Homo sapiens: one gene and its partners. The main gene of each other region encodes a partner of the protein of the gene in region 3 in a complex. Each region holds a gene or a part of one and is shown on either strand. Other genes may lie near its edges.

Region 1 (7,027 bases), on a different chromosome or scaffold from region 3:
GGAGCCCTGGGATGGCCCTCCCAGCATTCGTTGGGCTTCCCCGTCTCTGATATTTGTCAGGCCCCTCACCCCGTGTCTGGCCTTCCGCCAGCTGTGGGGGCAGGATCAGGCATGTACTCCTTGGTGGCCCCAGCGCTGGCTCTGCACCCGATGCATAGTAGGTGCCTAGCAAGTGCATCTGGAGGCTCGTTCGATGGCCCTGCAGGGCTCTCTGGGTCTGGCGGGAGACATTGGGAGTCAAGGTCAGTGCCTCACACCATCTCCTCGGCAGCATGTGTCTTTCTACCGTTTGCCGTGGCCCTTCCCATGGCCAGTGACTAACAGCTTTCACGCACACTCTGGGGTGGGCTGAAAGGCCCCGGAAGCAGCCCTCTTTCCCTGGAAGATGGGAGATGAATGACAGCACCCTAGCTTCCTGCCTTCTCTGGGGACGCCCTGAGCACGGTCCGTTCTGTCTCCCAGGTGGCCCCAGCAGGACTGAGAGCAGCAGCAGTCCACAGCCATGACAACTCAACCACCTGCCCTGTGTCAGCTGCTGTCCCCTCCTTTATTCCTCCCCACTCCCCTTCTGCAGCATCCTGGAGTCACTTCCCGAATAAACCCCTCACATCACCTCCTTGTCTCAGGGTTTGCTTCTGGGGGGACCCAGCCTGAGACGGGATGAACATTCATTCGACAAAATATTGCGGCTGGGCGCAGTGGCTCACGCCTGTAATCCTAGCACTTTGAGAGGCCGAGGCGGGCGGATCACTTAAGTTCAGGGGTTCGAGACCAGCCTGGTCAACATGGTGAAACCCTGTTTCTACTAAAAATACAAAAATTAGCTGGGCGTGGTGGTGCATGCCTGTAATCCCAGCTACTTGGGAGGCCGAGGCAGGAGAATCACTTGAACCCAGGGGGCAGAGTTTGCAGTGGGCCGAGATGGTGCCACTGCACTCCAGCCTGGGCGACAGAGCGTGATTCCATTTCAAAAAACAAACAAACAAACAAAAAACAACAAAAAGCAAACATTGAGTGGCAGCATAGGGAGAGAGGTAAGTTTATTCTCATCAAGACTGGGAGGAAAAGTTACACAGCCTCAATTACCTTTCCAAAGGACAGGTACGGGTAGGAAAAGGATTAAGAGACAATCTTTTTTTCTTCTTGTTAACTTGTATTACATTTTTAAAAAATATAATGAATCAGTAATGAAACAAATAAAGAAACCCAATTGCAAATGCTGTGTGACTTTGGGCCAGTCGCAGACTGTCTCTAGGTCTCAGCCTCCGAGGAATGACATGGAGCTGGACCACAATTCCCAGGTTCTGGGGTTTGAGATTGACCTTACCTCCGCCTTGCCTGCTCCCCACAGGTTTGACAACTATTCAGCCAATGTGATGGTGGACAGCAAGCCAGTGAACCTGGGGCTGTGGGACACTGCTGGGCAGGAGGACTACGACCGTCTCCGGCCGCTCTCCTATCCACAGACGGTGTGCTGCTCCCACCTGCCTTGCAGTCCTGACCTTTGCTGTCTCTGTTCCCTCTGCTTGGGATGCCCTTCCAGCCAGCTCAGCCTGGGAAACCCTACCTCTCCCCTTAAGGCCCAGCTCAGGGAGTCTGCCTGCCTTGCATGTCCCAGGCAGAGAAGGGCTTCCTCTTGCACTCCCTCAGCCCTGCATTGGTTCCCGGTCCTCAATGTGCCCATCTTCCCACCCCATTGCCTCCTGGGCTCTGGCACCCCCTGTTTCCAGTGGTGGGGCAGGTGGATTCTGCACAGGGCCCCAGGAGGCAGCCCAGCATGGTGAGCCCTGGGAGTGCTGGGGGAGGGGAGAGGTGGAGGATGCCTGCAGGTGGCTGCTGGGTCCTCGCCCTTCCTCCAGGGTATGCAGGGAGGCGGCTAAGGCCGGTAATCAGATGGTGGATAGTATATGGATTGGAGTATGGACTCTAGAATCCCAGATCCTCCCCTCACCAGAGTGCACGTTGGCAAACTCTTTAACCTCTGGAAGCCTCACTTTCCCTGTCTGAGGAATGGGGCTACCAGCAGTGCTTGCTGCAGAGTGACATGTGAGGATAACCACTTCGCAGAGGCCCTGGCCTTTAGTGAGCGTCCTAACAAACAGCAGCCTCGTGGTAGAGGCGAGAAGGGTATCTCTGCTCTGCCCAGATCCTAAGTCCCCAGCATTCCCTGGGGTGTTCCACCCTCAGGGAGCCCCAAGCTCCACCTCTCGGTGGCTGCCATGGTGGGACACCTCTGGGCCCTCCTCACTAGCAACCTCGCTTGCTCTGTCCCCAGGACGTCTTCCTCATCTGCTTCTCCCTCGTCAGCCCAGCCTCTTATGAGAACGTCCGCGCCAAGGTGAGCTGGACAGGGTGGGCCTTGGGGGCTCTGGGGCAGGTAACCCTGAGGGACAGAGGGAGGAACTGGTGACTCTAGGCTGGTCCCTGGGGCAGCAGAGGTCGCATACAGAGAGGGTCCCCAGTGCCAACCAGGGCTGGCAGAGGGACTTGAGGGGGTAAGATTCAGAGGACCTGGGGTGGGGGGTGCTGCGATAGTTAGCTATACCCCCACTTTCCATGGCTGCATTCTCCTCCTCCCCACACAACCTCATGTCCGCCTCCGATTGTCACATAACCTCATGTTTGCTTCTTATGTCTGCACAAAACCTCGCCTCCTCCTTTCCTACAATCATGCGCCCCCTCCTTCCTGCACAACGTCGTGGCCTCCCCTCCCTGTGCCACCTCACGTCTCTCTCTCCTCACCGTCGTGCCCACCTCTGATCTTCTGGCAACTTGCTGCCTCTCCTCTCCCTACACCCTCACACTCCCTCTGATCCCCGCACAGCCTCGCGCCCCCTCTTGACCCATACAACCTTGTGTCCCCCCACCCACCTGCCCAGTGGTTCCCAGAAGTGCGGCACCACTGCCCCAGCACACCCATCATCCTGGTGGGCACCAAGCTGGACCTGCGGGACGACAAGGACACCATCGAGAAACTGAAGGAGAAGAAGCTGGCTCCCATCACCTACCCGCAGGGCCTGGCACTGGCCAAGGAGATTGGTATGGGCCTCGGGCTCAGAGGGGCGATCTGGCTGCAGGGGAGGCCCTGACTTGGCCTCGTGGTGTGATTGTAAACACGGGCTGCAGGGCCAGGCTGTGCAGTTTGAACTCAGCTGTGCTGTGCACTTGCTGTGTGACCTTGGGCGAGTCACGTAGCCTCTCTCTGCCTGTGTTTCCTTATCAGAAAAGCATGGGATAGTGATAGCTCCTGCCTCCTGGGGTGGTTGGGGGAATTCAGTAACTTATTCCAGGTGGAGCTGCCAGGGCAGCACCTGTGTGTGAGAAGCACTCTGTGTTAGTAGTAGTCGTCCTAGTAGTATGAGTAGTATCTATTAATAGATACTGAAAATAAGGAGGTGTGCTTTGAGCAGACAGAAGCAGAGATTGAGTGGGGGTGCTGTGGTTGCTTGGAGGACAAGTGGCAAGTCAAACTTGGGTGTTCTGGGAAGGCTTCCTGGAGGAGGTGGCGCTGCATTAGATCTAAAGGGTGACACATTTCCTTCCACCACCTTCTCTCCTCCCTTTCCCCACTCCCTTTGGTTTCTCAGCTCGACCCCTCTTTGCCTCCAAATCACTGGGCTGGAGAAATATAGTAACTTCTCAAGGTCACCCAGCTAGTAGGTGGCCCAGCCAGATTTGAAGGAAGGACAGCAAATTATTGGCTCACTGCTGGGGGGTGCTTCTTTGTAGTGGCTCAGGGCTGCCTGCATCAGGGAGGCGATGACCATGGGTCTGGCTTCATGCATGGTACCCAGGCCTGCTGGCTGTTCCTGTCCCTGTCCCTGGTAGGTCCCAATGTGTCTGTAGCTCAGGGATCCTTGCCCAAAAGCCCAAAACCACCAGCTGGGTTTGGTCATATGAGCTGTGCCCTCTGCCTCACCACAGGACTCTGCAGGCCCAGGGTTTGGCCCCCAAATTGAATCCACTAGACCTCCTCCCGCCCCACCGCCCCAGCCCCGCCCCACCTCCCCCTGCCGGAACTGGGAGGGCCCTGGGGACTCACATCTCTTCACAGGAAGAGAAACCGCAGCCACCACCTCCCTCCTTCTGTGACTAGCGTGGTGACACAGCCATCTTCCCCGGGGGCCTCAGACTATGGCTCACACCCTGGCTCCCTTCCCCTGTCCTAGGGCCACAGCTCCCCAGCCTGCAAGTCTTTCCTTTTAAATATCAAGGATTCATCCCTGCCTTCTCTTTCTGACCAACCAGCACCCCTCCAACCCCTGCCCCTGGACTCCTTCTATTCAGGGTGCAGCTCTCCAGCCTGTGGCCTGGCTGTCACTGACCTCTCCCTTGTAAAGCACATGCTTTGGGATCATGTGGAGGGTGCTGGAGGCCTGGATTCTGGTCCTGGCTCTGATACTGATTGGCTGTGTGACCTTGGGTTAGTGGCTGCCCCTCTCTGGGCCTCAGTCTCCCTCTCCACATAAGCTGACCTGGACAATCCCCAAAGGCCCTCTCTCCTCCATAAGGTGGTGACTCAGAGTTCTTGCCTTGGCCTCTAGCCAGTCTTTCCTGGCTGACCCTGCATGGAGCTGGGGCAGGGGCAGTGATTTTAACTGTGCCTCAGACCAGCTTAGGCCTAGGGGGAGTCCTGGGGGGACTGGCAGGGATAGTGAGGGAAGCAGCAACTGCCTCTGCCCACCTGGACTCCCCAGCCCTGGGATGACAAGTTTTGGGGGCAGCCCTGAGCCCAGCTGATAATCACAGCTGATGTGGACTGAGCACTTCCTGGGAGCCACTTCATTCTCACAGCAGCTATGACGAAGAGCTCTTGTCACCTTCACTTTACAGAGAGGAAACAGGCTCGGGGGGACATGTTGCTGGCTTAAGGCCACCCAGCCAGGATTCTGACAGGGGTGGACTGGCTCCCTAAGCCACAAAGCTGAGGGCCATCTGTCCTCCCTGCACCTCCACTGCCCCCACCGCCCCCTCACCCTCCTTGCCCTCTCTGTAGCTCCCCTGCCCCCTGCCTCAGCTTGATGAGCCATCGCATGGCAATGAGTCCTAGACAGATGGGAGACTGAGGCCCGGAGAGGGGGAACTGACTAAAGTCCTAGAGCAGTGAGAGGCCGAGCCAAAGTGAGCCCTGGCCCCCCAGCTCAGGACCCTTGTCCTGGGTGAGTGGGTGGCTGGGTGCCAGGGAAAAGGCAGTTGGTGGATGTGGGGGAAGTGGACGCAGATGTGGTCCCTTATAAGGAGACAGTGGCCAAGTGCCCAGTGACACCTCCTCAACACAGGGGGCTGTGGTGACCAGACTCCGGGCTGAGCTCAGGGCACCCTGCTCTTGCCAGCCAAGCCCCATGACAACCACTGCCCATGATCCCTGGTGGGCGTATATGCCTCCAGGTAGAGGGGAGACGCCCAGCATGTGACTCAGAGCGAGTGACATCCTCTCTGAGCCTCAGGCTCCTCGTCCCTGCCCCACCCTTCCTTTCTCCCCAGCACCTGGCCTCAGTGGGCTCCCCTGTTCCAGGGGCTGCCCCTCCTGCCATCCCGACTTCTCCCCCCAGCTCTGTGCCTTCGGGCCTTGGCTTCCCCACTCTGGGCCTGTTTCCTGGTCTGTGAAATGGGAACTCACCCCGGTGTTGTTGGAAGCACCCAGCTCAGTGCCTGGCACAGGGTAGGTGGTGACCAGCGTCCATCCCCTTCCATCCTGCCACAGAGAAGCAAGCGGGCTTTGGCGGAGGGCCCAGAGTTCCCCTCCCCTCCCTTCTCCTTCCTCTTGGTTCTGACATCGGCCCCCAGGCCTGCATAGCATCTCGGCAGAAGGGGTTTTGTGGTTTTTCACTTCAGGGAAACTGTGCAGCTTGAAATGGACATGGGAAGTCACACGGACTCTTTGCAGAATGTCATGGAACGCCGTCCCTGGGGGTGGGAACTAGGCCTGCCTTTCTCCTCATCTGTGCCCCGGGCTCTAGCCCTGAGGGGTCTTCATGTGGGAGAAGGCTGGGCCTCCCATGGCAGGACAGAGGAGCTCTCCAATGCCACTCCTCCCAGAAGGCCCCCAGCTGGGCCCAGGTTGAGGGAATACATCCAGCGTGTGAGTTTGGATGAGTCGCATACTCTCCAGGAGCCTCAGTTTCCTTGTCTGTAAGACAGGGACGGTGCTAAGGAAGGGGCTGATGATGTTGGGAAGTTCCTGGGGAGGGGGCCCTGAGGGCTTCAGGCCTCCTGGGGATTATTTGCAACCCTGGGAGAATCCTGGAGGGATGGGCAAGACAATTTTCTAGAAGGTGAGGCTCCCAGAGATTTGGTCACTGATGCTTGAGCCCTTTCCTTCACAGAAAAGCATCAAAATTCCCGCCCTCCTTCCACGGACTAAGGGCTATGTGTCCAAGAAAGACACAGACCTGCCCTGGAGGCCTTAGTCTCTCACTGAGTTCACGCTCGCTATTACAGACATGAGGAAACTGAGGCACGGTGACGTTAAACTCCTTGCTCCTGGTGACACAGCCTCCAGGTGACCCCACTGGGACTGGATGGCGGCCCCCAGAGCCTGGTGTTCAGTTGTATGGCTTGGGAGGGGGTGTACGGCATGGAGGGGTGTATGGCGTGGGAGGGGGTGTATGGGGTGGGAGGGGTTGTATGGCATAGGAGGGGTGTATGGCGTGGGAGGGGTGTATGGTGTGGGAGGCGTGGGAGGGGTATATGGCGTGGGAGGCATGGGAAGGGGTGTATGGCGTGGGAGGGGGTGTATGGCGTGGGAGGGGTGTATGGCATGGGAGGCGTGGGAGGGATGTATGGCGTGGGAGGGGGTGTATGGCGTGGGAGGGCTTGTATGGCATGGGAGGCATGGGAGGAGTGTATGGTGTGGGAGGGGTGTATGGCGTGGGAGGGGTGTATGGCGTGGGAGGGTGTATGGCGTGGGAGGGGTATATGGCGTGGGAGGGGTGTATGGCGTGGGAGGGGTGTATGGCGTGGGAGGCGTGGGAGGGGTGTATGGCATGGGAGGGTGTATGGCGTGGGAGGGGTGTATGGCGTGGGA
Region 2 (7,027 bases), on a different chromosome or scaffold from region 3:
GGGTGGAGTGGTGTGATCACAGCTCACTGCTGCCCTGAATTCCTGGGCTGAAGGGATCCTCTTGCTTCAGCCTCCTGAGTAGCTGGGACTACAGGCAAGAGCCACCACTTATTTTTGAATTTTTTGTGGAAACAAGGTCTCCCTATGTTGCCCAGGCTGGTCTTGAACTCCTGGGCTCAGCGATCCTCCCACCTCAGGCCCCTGTGCTGGGATTATAGCCTCCTGTGCTGGGATTACAGGCCTAAGCCACTGCACCAGGCTTTTATTTTTTAATTTAAAAAAATTTATTTTTTTGAGACAGGGTCTCACTTTGTCCCTCAGACTGGATGCACTGGTGCAATCTTGTTTCACTGCAGCCTTGACCTCCCTCCTGGGTTCAAGTGATCCTCGTGCCTCAGCCCCCCAAGTAGCTGAGACTACTGCTGCACACCGCCACACCCACCTAATTTTTGTATTTTTAGTAGAGAACGGGTTTCTCCATGTTGGCCCAGCTGGTCTTGAACTCCTGGGCTCAAGCGATCCACCCACCTCAGCCTCCCAAAGTGCTAGGATTACAGGCATGAGCCACCATGCCTGGCCTAAAAATATTTTTTTCAGCTCTAGAAATGTTAGCTCTTTTGCTGTACATTTCCAGAGCTGCTTTAATAATGACAGTTATCACACGCATAATTTCATGTGATGATTGCATTCTTAATTTTTAAATTTAACAACTGCACTTACTTCATGAGGTCTTGTTCATTGATACATCTTTAGCACCTAGTGTGCTTCTGGTGTAGCACACGGTTGATATAAATTGAAATTGAATTAATGCTCACAGTAGTTTGGGGATGGAGCTGGTAGTTCTGCATTAATTTTGCAGGTGAAAAAAAAAGGCATGAGGAAGTTGAAACTTGCCAAAAAATACAGCCAGTACGTGCTAGAATTGGCCCTGGGTCTCAAATCTGGGCTTCTGACTCCAAAGCTTAGGCTCCTGCTCATACAGGTTTATTTTCACATTCTAAGCTTTTAACGAAATGTATGTCCAATGAGTCATTTCTGTTTAGAAAGCCTTTAGGAGTTGGAAGCTACTTCCTGGTGATGTAATGTTTGACTCTCTAAAGTCTTTGGAATGGGGAGTTCCAACTTTTGTTAAGCCCTCAATAATGTCATGAGTGAATGAATATTGGCAAGACTGGCTGGGCCTGTAATCTGCCTTGAGTGTGAGGGAAAATGGAAAAGCGCTTAACTTTATGGTGAATTCTAATTTATAGTAGTTGAGATTGAACGACAAAAATCTTAAAATTATGATGCTGATGTGTCATTGTGACCTTGGTAAACTGACAGCACAGCAGAGAGAAGGGCTCATTAAGGAGAGCACTTGGCTAACTGAACCCTCAGGATGCCAGAGACTTGAATTCTCATGTAAGCCCTTAAGCTTGCCTTGTCAATGCTGTAAAAATTGGAGACCTTTATGTTTTGCTAATGATGTGGTGACCTTAGTTATTAGGTGATAGCCTCTTGAAAAACATTCCAGGTGGTTGGGAGACTTTCAGCCACCACTCTTCTGCCTGGCGGCACACTGGTAATATTAGGATTAGTCTCTACCCATTGCCAGTTGTGCAGGTGGTGCTCCTTTCTCTGAAGTATTTCTACACACTTCTCTGTTTGGCAAGTTTAACTCCCATCGTCTCTGAGCTGTTAATTAAATGTCTGGGATGTATTGTGATAGTCCCTGCTTATAGACTTATGGTGCTGTGTGAGGATTGGGGCTGGGGGAGGTGGCATTTAAATACAGCTGAATCAATGTGATGGCAGTTACGTGTGGTAGTTTATTGACTAAGCACTTTCTCTCAAGAGAACAGTCATTGCTGATTGCCATAGGGGAGGCTGTAGGGATGTGGTGGGATTTTGAGCTGTCCCACTTAAGGCAGCAGAATAAGTTACTTAAAGAGGAAGGCTGTGTTTGTATATTAGTGTTAATTAAAATACCTTTAGGCTGGGTGTGGTGGCTCCAGCCTGTAATCCCAGCACTTTGGGAGGTCCAGGTGGGCGGATCACTTGAGGTCAGGAGTTCGAGACCAGCCTGGCCAACATGGCGAAAACCCATCTCTACTAAAAATACAAAAAAATTATCCAGGCGTGGTGGTGGACAGCTGTAATCCCAGCTACTTGGGAGGCTGAGGCAGGAGAATCGCTTGAACCTGGGAGGCAGAGGTTGCAGTGAGCCAAGATGGTGCCTCTGCACTGCACTCCAGCTGGGGCGACAGCACGAGACTCGGTCTCAAAAAAAAAAAAAAAAGAAAAAAAAGAAAAAAAGAAAATATCTTCAGGATCAAACTTAAGATTCTTGATGAGAGGCTCTACAGATGTTCACAGAAGAGACGTGAAGTTTTAAAATCTTGTTTCTCTTGAGTCTTGTAGCTAGGTGACAACTGTTTCTTGACTATTAATGCTAACACCGGGTACCTAAACAGAATGTGATGGCTCCTGACTCTATCTTTCTGAGAAATTCTAGTTTGTTTACTTTAAATTTCAGGGTACCAATGTGTATGTGGTGATAAAGGGTTATAGAAAACATTTTCTTTAATGCTAAGTATGTGATGTATATGCCTTGATTTTTTTTCTCTAGAAATTATTTTAACTTAATAGTGAAAGCTAAGATTACATTCATGTTGACTAAGCAACCTTTTTTCTCTTTCTCTTTAGAGCTGTAGGTAAAACTTGCCTACTGATCAGTTACACAACCAATGCATTTCCTGGAGAATATATCCCTACTGTGTAAGTATCTTAAATTGGGAATTAACCTGTTTGTGTTACGGGTTTCACATTTCTTTGACCATTTGTTTTGCTGTAAAGCCATCTTTAATCCTCATATGAACAGATACTAATTTTTTCTTAAACATTCACTGAAACCTAATTATAAGGTATATTAGGCTTTTAAAAAATAGGGCTGGGGGTGGTGATCTCAGCACTTTGGGAGACTGAGGCGGGTGGATCAACTGAGGGTCAGGAGTTCGAGACCAGCATGGTCAACGTGATGAAACCCCATCTCTACTAAAAATACAAAAAATTAGCCAGGTGTGGTGGCGGGTGCCTGTAATCCCACATACTTGGGAGGCTGAGGCAGGAGAATCACTCGAACCGTGGAGGCGGAGGTTGCAGTGAGCCAAGATCACGCCACTGCACTCCAGCCTGGGCAATGAGAGCGAAACTCCATCTCAAAAGAAAAAAAAAAAAGAAACTTAGGGTAATATAAACTTTTCACAACTTTGCTAGTTGATTTTTAGACATCCAGAAAGCAAACTTTAACTGTCTGTGAGGTACAGAGACTGGATGATGTTAAAGAAAACCATAGTTGGACACAAGAACTCTGACCAAAAGTCTGATCAGAAACAGTCCTTGTCAGTGCACGAGTTTCAGATACACTGGCTTTCTGGGAACTGGAAAGGGAAAGATTCCATTACGTTTTAATTGGCCTTTTCTGATAAGTCATCAGTTGGTTACATGTCCGCATTGAGGTGTAGGGCTTTGGAATTGAAACTTGGGTGTGTGTGTTGAAGGGGGAATGGGAGGGTGGAATTGGCTATTGAATTGCTTACTCCCTATAGGCAGCAGAATTGGGTGGAGACAGGAAAGTGCTGCTCTGGTGATGGGTTACCCGGGAGCGCACGTAGCTGAGCCTCATAATGCACCATCCTGCAGCTGCTGTGAGTCCTCCCTGTGCAGGCTGGGGAGGTGTCGCCTCCTCCCCACCTGTGTTCACCTCCTCAGGCACAACACACACCCAGGTGCTCTCTGAAGTGTCGTACCCATGTTTTTGTTGTTGTTGTTGTTGTTTTCCTTTTTTTTTTTTTTTTTTGGAGTTAGTCTCTCTCTCTTGCCCAGGATGGAGTGCTGTGATGCGATCTCAGCTCACTGCAGCGTCTGCCTCCTGGGTTCAAGTGATTCTCTGCCTCAGCCTCCCAGGTAGCTGTGATTACAGGCATACACCACCACACCTGGCTAATTTTTGTTTCTTTAGTAGAGACGGGTTTCACCATGTTGGCCAGGTTGGTCTCAAACTCCTGACCTCAGGTGATCTGCCCACTTCAGCCTCCCAAAGTGCTGGGATTACAGGCGTGAGCCACGGCACCCATTTTTTACTGTAAGTGGAATCATGCTGTCCCTGTTGTCCTAAATTTATGGGGGAGATTTTCCTTATCTACATATGTAGATAAAGGTTTAATCATTAATGATTAATGATTTTGAAGTACTATAACTGATTTAACCCACTGGTCACTTGGACTCTTGGTGTTAACAAACATTGCTGGGTTCAGTGTTGTCCCTTATGTCTTTGTGTACACTTGATAGATTATTAGAAGCAAAATCGTGCCAAATCAAAAGACAATGGATGTTTTAAATTTTGGTAGATACAGCTGGGCGTGATTGCTCACGCCTGTAATCCCAGCACTTTGGGAGGCCAAGACGGAAGGATCACTTGAGGTCAGGAGTTCGAGACCAACCTGGCCAACATGTTAAAACCCCCACCTCTGCTAAAAATACAGTAGTTAGCCGGGTGTGGTGGTGCACTCCTGTAGTCCCAGCTACTCAGGAGGCTGAGGCATGAGAATTGCTTGAACCCGGGAAGCAGAGGTTGCAGTGAGCCAAGATTGTGCCACTGCACTTCAGCCTGGGTAACAGAGTGAGACTCTGTCTCCCAAAAAAAAAAAAAAATTAAAAAATTATTTTTTGGTAGATAACTACCAAATTGCTGTCTATAAAGCTGTCACTTTGCTGGCCTTGACTTAAGTGGCCTCTTAGTACACACTGCCATTAACGTGGGTTGAAGTTATCTAACCGTTTTCATTTCCAATCACAGATGTGGTTAAAATCTTTTGAATTTTTTTTTTTTTTAATTAAAAAAGTTTGCTCACGCCTGTAATCCCAGCACTTGGGGAGGCTGAGCTGGGCGGATCACTGAGGTAAGGAGTTTGAGACCAACTTGGCCAAGATGGTGAAACCCTGTCTCTACTAAAAATACAAAAATTAGCTGGGCATGGTGGCACATGACTATAATCCCAGCTATTCGGGAGGCTGAGGCAGGAGGATTGCTTGAACCTGGGAGGTGGAGGTTGCAGTGAGCCAAGATTGTGCCTCTGCACTCCAGCCTGGGCAACAGAACAAGACATTGTCTCCAAAAAAGAAAAAAAAAATATGTGTTTTTGTAGAGCTATGTTTTGCTATATTGCCCAGGCTGGTCTTGAAGACCTGGCCTCAGGTGATTCTCCACCTTGGTCTCCCGAAGTGTTGGGATTACAGGCGTGAGCCACCACACCTGGCTCTTTTGAATGTTTACTGTACATTTTTAGTCTCTTGTGAATTGTCTGTTTAAATCTTTTGTATTTTTCTACTGAAATTTTTTCTTACTGATGGAACATTTCCTTCCTTCCTTCCCTCCCTCCCTCTCTCCCTCCCTTCCTCCCTTCCTTTCTTCCCTCCCTCCTCCTCTCCCTCCCTCTCTCCCTCCTTCCCTCCTCTCCTACTCCTTCCCTCCTTCCCTCCTTCCTTCTCCTTTCTTTTCCCCTCCCTCCCTTGCTCCCTCCCTCCCTCCCTTTTTTTTTTTTTTTTTTTTTGAGATGGGGTCTTGCAGTATTGCCCAGGCCGGACTTGAAGTACTGGTCCTTCCACCTCAGCCTATTGAGTAGCATGCTCCACTGCACGTAGCCTGATGGAACGTTTTGTAAATAATCCTCAGTCTGTCATTTGTCTTTGTACTTCATTATGGTGTCTTCTGCCATATAGAAATTTAGCATTTAATGTAAATAATACCACCTTACCCGGGCACGGTGGCTCACACCTGTAATTCCAGCACTTTGGGAAGCTGAGGTGGGCGCATTATGAGGTCAGGAGATCAAGACCAGCCTGATCAACATGGTGAAACCCCATCTCTACTAAAAATACAAAAATTAACCGGGCATGGTGGCGTGCACCTGTAATCCCAGCTCCTCAGGAGGCTGAGGCAGGAGAATCACTTGAACCCAGGAGGTGGAGGTTGCAGTGAGCCGAGATCGCACCACTGCACTCCAGCCTGGGTGACAGTGAGATTCTGTCTCAAAAAAAAAATAATAATAATAATGATAATACCACCTCTCCCTCAGAATTGTATGTTGTACTTAGAAAGGCCTTTCCTACTTAAATAATGCAAAAGTATGCTCTAGTATTTTTTTCTAGGATTTTTGTGGCTAAAATTTTTATCTTTAATTCATTTAGGACTTATTTTTGGTATAGAATGAGGCAAGGACCTGATTCTTTTTCCCTTATGGGGAAAAAAAGTCACAATACTATTTATCCAATAATTTTTTTCTTATGGAAATATAATTAACATGTCCATCACCATCACACCTTTTCTTTCTTCTTCTTCTTTTTTCTTGAGACCGAGTTTCGCACTTGTTGCCCAGGCCGGAGTGCAGTGGCGCAACTTGGCCCACTGCAACCTCTGCTTCCCGGGTTCAAGCGATTCTCTTGCCTCAGCCTCCCAAGTAGCTGGGACTACAGGTGCCTGTCACCACGCCCTGGCTAATTTTTGCATTTTTAGTAGACACAAAGTTTCGTCATGTTGGCCAGGCTGGTCTCGAACTCTTGACCTCAGGTGATCCGCCCACCTCGGCCTCCCAAAGTGCTGGGATTACAGGCGTGAGCCACCGTGCCCAGCCTCTGCTTTTTATTATATTTTTCCTTTTTTTTTTTTTCTTTTTTGCCTTCCTGTGCAGAGGAAACACTATTTTCTTCTAAAGCTTGGTTTCTGCTGACCAGTAGCAATTTTTAACATCAGTCTGATTTCCCTCTGTCAGCCTATAGGCTTTGCTGGGTTATCTCTCCTGACTAATTTGTGTAGCAACTTCACATGAATTTAAACATTTGTATCATCAGTTAACACTCACTTTGAAAATGTTATTGGGAGGCTTGTTAAGTCAGGTGTATTTTGTGTGACTGCTCTACACTCAGGCCTTCTGGAAACCCTGCAGAGGGTAGCTCTAGTGGCCAGCTAGCTCTCTTGCTGAAAATGAGC
Region 3 (7,027 bases):
ATGTAACTTATCACTATCAAACAATCTTTGACATTCCTTTAAGGGAAAACCATTACATTATAGTTTCTTTTTGTCCATTTTTAAGCAGGGGGTATTTATATTATCAATTAGCATTATTTGAGCATTTGGCAGCACAACCCACATTTATTTCCTCATGGAAGAGACAAGTTAGAAGTTTTCCTTGTTGAAAATGAAATGCACTCCCCGAGGGCCAGACTCAGAGTTGGAGATGCTTTGTTTACTCAGGGTTTCAGCCAAGGCTTCAGGTCCACAGAGGAAAACTCCTATTCTGGTACTTTTGGGAAAGAAAAAAAAAGACAATTTCAAGCTTTGGGATGAGATGTCTACAAAGCAGGTAGGTGAATTTCCCGTTAATTTGAGGCCCCAGGGCAGAGTCCCCTCTGCTCCTTTTTCTTTTCCACAAATAGCAAAGGGATCATATTGCTCAGAGGGAGTGTGGTTCAGCCTGTTTGTGTGAGCATCTGGATAGTTCAAAAGGTAGTTGACTTCCCTGGCAAAAGTAAAATCCAACCAAGGTTTTTGGAAACTTCTATCACAGAGAAAATGGTGGTGAATTCATGAGTCCGTGGGCTACTTTCCTTCAGGGCTCTGTGCCCCCTGGCATCTTGAAATTAGGAACAAGCTAACTATGCCAACCACTCAGTGTGGCTTCATTTCTCTAAATTTTAGAGTCTGAAGCCCTGTTCAAAGTGTGGTTTCTGATCAGTAGCCTTGGCGTCAGCTTTTTAAAAAATGCAGATTACCTGGCCCTACCTCAAATCTTCTAAATTGGTATCTGCATTTTAAAGAGATCCCCAGGCACTTTGTATGCTCCTTACAGTGCAAAAAGCAATAGTCTGAAGGGTACACGTATGGTGATCTCTTGAGTTTCTTAGGTGTTCTAGCAAGATAAGGGATCCCCCTCAAGGTTTTATAATGACTAAAGTTTTAGTGAGAGCAGAAAGCACCTTGAGACATCTGTCAACTTAAGATTTTAGACCCAGAAGCTTTTAGAACTGAAAGTGGGGACAGTGTCTTCTTAACAATATGTATAAATTATATTGAATCTTTAAAAGAAGTAGATACACTAATGAAATTTAGGTGACTAAAGAAAAGAACTAAGCTGTGGCCCTACTTGGGACAGGCAGGTTGAGAAAATCTGAGATGGGGACCTGGAAATACTTGTTTTTAATTAATCTCCAGGTAATTTGGTATAATTTAAAGATCCTTCTTAAAGTTGAAGATATCTGGAATCTTCTGTTGGGCATGAATTCAATCTTTATATAGTAATATACATATTTGAGTTTCTAAAATATATAAGTTTAGATATGTATAGGGGCTGCCGCTTTAGGCAGATGCAAGCCTCAAAAACATCTTGGTGACAGACTCCTTACTTAGGGTGTTGACTTGCAATTGTCTTGAATTCATTATCCCAGTTGGGCCGTCCATACAAAGTCTTTTGTTTCAGGCCTGTGATCACATCTTTCTCCTCATCATGGTGCACAGCAAAGTGATTGGCCTACAGGAAAGGACATGAATTCAGAAAAAAAAGAGACATTCTGTAAAAGCACATACAATGTATTTACATCCTTCACAAGCTATTCTAACCAAGGCACCCTGCTGGATGCTGAAAGGTAAACAAAGATAAATAAACTGGATCTCTCTCAAGCAATTTACAGTCTAGAAAGGGAGACTTCGAAGTATAAATATAAATAATCCCATATGTCGAACAGGGTATGATGTGTGTCATGAAGGAGGCACAAGCGTCCTAATGAGAACAAAGAAGGAAGGTGAAGTGGAAGAATAGGGGAAGGGTTAGGGCCGCAGTATTTGAGTCAGGCATTGATGGATGAATAGTGTCTCACTGTTTTTCTCTCTGCTCTATGTTTGACTTTTTCTCTCCACCCTAATATACTTCCACTCCTTTGGGAGAATTACTAAGAGATGTAACAATTTTAGACTAAAATGCAGCAATACTTTGGTAGCATAAGACATCAAATCAAGCCTAAAGCTAGTGTGTGTGTATGTGTGTGTGTGCACGCACATATGTGTATATAGTCACATACTGTTTTTCTGCTACCATTCTAGGAGGCTTCAGTTTGAGCAACAGGTATTTTTCATAAAAGTGGTTAATTAAATTTATTTTTAAAAAGCAAATCAGATTTGAAATTCACTAGATGGATGATGGTCATAGAGGAGGTTAAGAAAGGTGGGCACTCCAATTTAATAATTCTATAGATATCAGTTTTGCAAAGCAAAATAATTACTTTTTCAATACAAATAAATAACTGATTTAAAAAAGAAACCTGTGCATGGCTTTTAAAATAACAGAACAGTAAAGCAATTTATATACTATAGATTTTTTTCCTGAGTTTTATTTTTATCAAAGCATTTTTGTTTTGTTTTTAAATTGCAGAACTGGCATTTTGAAACCACTTTTTATGGAGCAACAATTCTTATCGTTATGTTTCCCTAATCTATATTTGCTACAAGATTCCTTTAAGACTTGGAGAATCTGTGATAAACAATATGTTGAAACCCAAATGGGAATTCAGTCTTCACAGTGACAGGGTGCACATGGAAGATTCCCAGGGTTGTGGAGTCAATGTCTATGTATGCCCAGTTGCTACAGTTTGAATGTATCCTCTCCAAAATTCAGATGTTGCCTATGTGATAGCATTAAGAAGTGGAGCCTTAAAAAGGTGATTAAGACATGAAGGATCATCCCTTATGAATGAGTTAAGGGCTTTGGAAAAGAGTCATCACACAGTATTTGACGAGCCTTCCCTTTTTCTTTCCACCATGTGAAAACACAGTATTTCTCCCACCCAGAAGATGCAGCCTTTGCTAGACAACCAAACCTGTTGGTGTCTTGATCTTGGACTTGCCAGCCTCCAGAACTTTGAGAAAATAAATTTCTGTTCTTTACAAACTACCCAGTCTTGGGTGTTTTGTTATAGCAGCACAAATGGACTAAGACACCAGCTGAGACACTGGACAGAAATATGCAGAGACTCTTGCCTTAGCTCCTCACTCATGGTGATAGCTTATGCTGCTTCCAGGCCAAGTCATTAACGTTTGCTTACTTACAAAGATGTTACCACTCCAGGAATCATTACCTTGTTTCAGGGTTTGTCAATTTCAGCACTGTTGATATTTGGGACTGTATAATTCTTTGTTGTGGGGGGCTGTCTTTTTAATTGTAGGATATTTACATTGCCAACTGTCTCTGGTGTGTGTCTTGGGGAGGAGCAGAGCAAAATTGTCCCAGTTGAGAACTATTGGCTACTTTATTATAGTGGTCTCCAAACATTTTTGAAAGAGCACTCTCATTGTACACACACATACACACACACATACATGCATATATATCACATTCATTAGATATATAGTAATTTATTTATAAATGATAATCATGAACTACTGCAAGATGCTGAAAGGACAGGCTCTGGCACATTCTGTCTCTGTCACTTACTTGTTGGGTGCTCTTAGGAAAATGACCTAACCTGGTCTGAGTTTTTTCATCTGTAAAGTGTGGAAAATAATAAGAGCTACTTCATAGGGTTGGTGACATGATAAAATTAGACAATCTATGTGACTAGATACATAAGAATAATACCTGGCAATATATATGCATAATAATTATAAATGTAGTGAGTATATTATAAAACATACAAAAGCATATAAATTAAATGATTTTATAAATACATATATACATAGTACATATAAATATATATGATACATATATAAATACATATTAAAATATATATATACAGAATCCTTTATATGCTTATGTATGTTATATAAACAGATGCTCCTCAGCTTACAATGGTGTTATATCCTGATAAAACCATCACTAAATTGAAAATACCATAAGTCTAAAATGGGTTTAATACATCTAACTTAATAAACATCATAGTTAGTTTAGTCTAGACTACCTTAAATGTGCTCAGAACACTTATATTAGCCTACAATTGCACAAAATCATCTAACATGAACCCTATTTATAATAAAAGGTTTAAGACCACATGTAATTTATTGAATACAGTACTGAAGTATGGCTTGTACTGAAGTATGGCTTCTACTGAATGCATATTGCTTTCACTTCATTGTAAAGTTGAAAAATCATAAGTTGAACCATTATTAAGTTGGGGAGTGTCTGTTTTACACACACACACACACACACACAGAGACAGAGAGAGAGAGACAGAGAGACAGAGAGAGAGACAGAGAGAAAGAGAAAGCTAAATTTTCCCCAAAATAACCCTGTGCATCATCTCAATCACCTGGTTTCAGAGTGCCTGGTGGGAGAATTGCTCTAATAATGTCAAAGTGATGGCTTTTATTCCCTCACAGGCTCCTTGGCTTTGATTCTAATCTGAGCAGTCTAAATATAATGTGGCGATACTAAATGAGAGTGAATGGACCGGATCACCAAATCCACTAAACATACTTAGAAAAAATAGTACACAAGACACACCAATAACCAAGGGGAAGTTCGTAAGCCCTGTACACTATGGGAAGGACCTGAGCCTTGGAGTCTTGTCCTTACCTGAGACTCATCCCAGCCAGTGAGGTAGATGTTGTAGCTGAGGAAGCCGGCATTGTTCCTTTCCTGCATCTGGCTCTCCAGCAGTTGCAGCAGATCTGCAAACCACTCAAAGGCATGTGTGTCCCGGCACAGCCAGTAGAAGTAGATCTGAAAATGGGGTGGATCATGAAGCAGATTATATTTGGCAGGCCCTATCAGCATTACCATGTGGAATTCCACTTTCTGTCACCTAAACTTTTTCTTGATGCTCAGAATGCCTAGAAACATAGATTTTCAGAAGGCTCTGGACATTTCACAGGGTAGTTTACATGAACCTGCTCTGGCCTTCACTCTAGCAGGGCAGTAAATAAGTAACTTGACCTCAGAAATACACAACTTAAGAAAAAACTATTAGCCCACCAAATTTCCCTCTGAGTCTGCTCTTACTCTCCCAGAATCTCTGGCTTCCTTCGAACCTCTTCTCAGAAAGCCTGATGGAATCTAGACTAGCAGGGATTGCCACAGAAATTCTTCCCTGGCTGCTACTGCCAGACATTCATGAGTTCCGAGGGGAAAAATAAGGTTCTATGCACATCTCCTCCACATGGAAAAGAGGTACAGGGAGAATGAAAAGTCAAGGTAGGCTTAATGTCCCTATTAGAGTTTATCTTTACAGTTATTAGAATGGCCTGAGGTTTATTTAGGATGCCCTTTATTACACAATAAAACCAAATTTATAGGTAACCAAAAAATCTCCTGTGAATTGATCCTGAGGAGATATTCATAAGTAGAGTTTCAGGTCTCCTCTCCTCCCTTTGCAAAAAAAGTATTGGGTGAGTGGAGGGGGTGGGGCGCGGCTGGAAATTGAATCAATCTCAGTATCTAACACAAGATGAAAGAAAAATTATTCAATATCCTCTCAATAGAACATGAAGAGATCATTTAAAGTCATCATTATAAAGCCTGTGAAGACATTGAAAAACACTTTCTATAATGTTTTTTTAAAAGCAGGACATGAAATTATACATACTTAATATTTACAACCTTCTAAAAATATGTAAACATGGAAAATATTAGAAGAGAATATACAAAAATTACAGCTATTAAGTTGGGGCTGTGAATACTTTCCCAACTTTCTTTCTTCTGAATTTCCAGCAACACTATACAAATACAATATATTCCCTTCACTAATAGGCCTACTTATCTAGAAGCACATTAGATTTAACAAATATTCTTTTGAAGAAAAGCCTGTCTCTCTGGAACCACCGGAAGCTTTTCTTCACTTCCCATGGTCTCTGCCAACCTTAGCCCTGAAAGCACTCTCAGGCCTCACATGGCAGAGTATGGTTACTGCTCTAAGGCCCTCCGATAAATGAAAGGACTTACCTTTTTGAGCTTCAGATTGGTGGCGTTATTGCAATATTTGTACCAGACTGACTTGAGAATGGATGCGAAGGGTGTGACCCCAATCCCTGCTCCCACTAACATCACCACCTCATAGCTGAACACATCTTCACTGGCAGTGCCAAAGGGCCCATCAACCGCTATCCTGAAGGGAAATGGGGAGGAGATAGTTACAGAGATGTCTTGCTCTTCAGAGTGAGATGGGGCACCCATAATTATTGGGGATGTGCAACATGTTAATTCAAATTGGAATAATGTATCTATTGGGTGCTTCCTTCTATGAAATAGCTTTCAAGTAACCAAACTTAGTGCCAACGTTGGGTTTGGAAGTAAAAAGAGAAATATTTGGCTAACCAAAAACATTCGGTAACTCAGAACAAGTTTTTTTTTTTTTTAATCTCCCCACCCCTCTTCACACACAACAACGCCCCCTCCACACACACCCTATGTCTTGCCAGGACATCCCACTCTTGAAATTCTTGCATACGGTGCACCCTGAAGTGAGGATTTGCTGCATCATTACATCTTGTAGATTTAATGTCTCCACTTTTCATTTATCTATTCATTGAGTTATTCAACAAACTCTCAAACCTTTCTTTAGCACCTACTAAGTGCCTTATAGCATGTTAGGCATGCAGGGAAAAGGAGGCAAAGGGGCTAATATATGGCATTTAACCTCAAATAAATTATGCCAATGAAAATTTAAGAATATTTTTGATACACTACAATTATATTTGTTAGGAAAGTTAATATAACTTGGCCTTGACCCTTACATATTTAAAGGAATTTGGGAGTATTTATTTCTAATATTTGATTCAAGGTTTTCATATTTCACATAAGATTTATGAAAATATGCATAAACACACTACACATATGAAACGGTGACCACAGAAATAGCTACCTATATTCTTAGAACCTGTGTGTTTTGTTGGAGACTTAGTAAAACATGGAGGAAGAGGAGCTATTTAGTGCCATTTTTCCTGAACTCATATACGTTGGTAATATGTACTTTTTACTCACTTAGGTAGTTTCCACGCATCTTGAAACTCCTGCTTATCACAGCCACAAGCATTGAACAGCCCCTCTGTCCAG

The links. Proteins that work in one complex are often made in the same cells at the same time.
Region 1: CYBB (region 3) and RAC2 share a complex: the UniProt entries of both Homo sapiens proteins name them as parts of the phagocyte NADPH oxidase complex.
Region 2: CYBB (region 3) and RAC1 share a complex: the UniProt entries of both Homo sapiens proteins name them as parts of the phagocyte NADPH oxidase complex.

What each region holds. Positions count from the first base shown.
Region 1 is NC_000022.11:37,227,243-37,234,269, reverse strand, and holds part of RAC2 (ras-related C3 botulinum toxin substrate 2), read left to right. Parts: intron 1-1,351; coding exon 1,352-1,469; intron 1,470-2,275; coding exon 2,276-2,338; intron 2,339-2,879; coding exon 2,880-3,039; intron 3,040-6,326; coding exon of another isoform or gene 6,327-6,364; exon of another isoform or gene 6,365-6,531; intron 6,532-7,027. UniProt on the Homo sapiens protein: Plasma membrane-associated small GTPase which cycles between an active GTP-bound and inactive GDP-bound state.
Region 2 is NC_000007.14:6,384,527-6,391,553, forward strand, and holds part of RAC1 (ras-related C3 botulinum toxin substrate 1), read left to right. Parts: intron 1-2,685; coding exon 2,686-2,757; intron 2,758-7,027. UniProt on the Homo sapiens protein: Plasma membrane-associated small GTPase which cycles between active GTP-bound and inactive GDP-bound states.
Region 3 is NC_000023.11:37,804,059-37,811,085, reverse strand, and holds part of CYBB (NADPH oxidase 2), read right to left. Parts: coding exon 6,956-7,027; intron 6,081-6,955; coding exon 5,918-6,080; intron 4,700-5,917; coding exon 4,553-4,699; intron 1,520-4,552; coding exon 1,395-1,519; intron 296-1,394; coding exon 169-295; 3' UTR 1-168. UniProt on the Homo sapiens protein: Catalytic subunit of the phagocyte NADPH oxidase complex that mediates the transfer of electrons from cytosolic NADPH to O2 to produce the superoxide anion (O2(-)).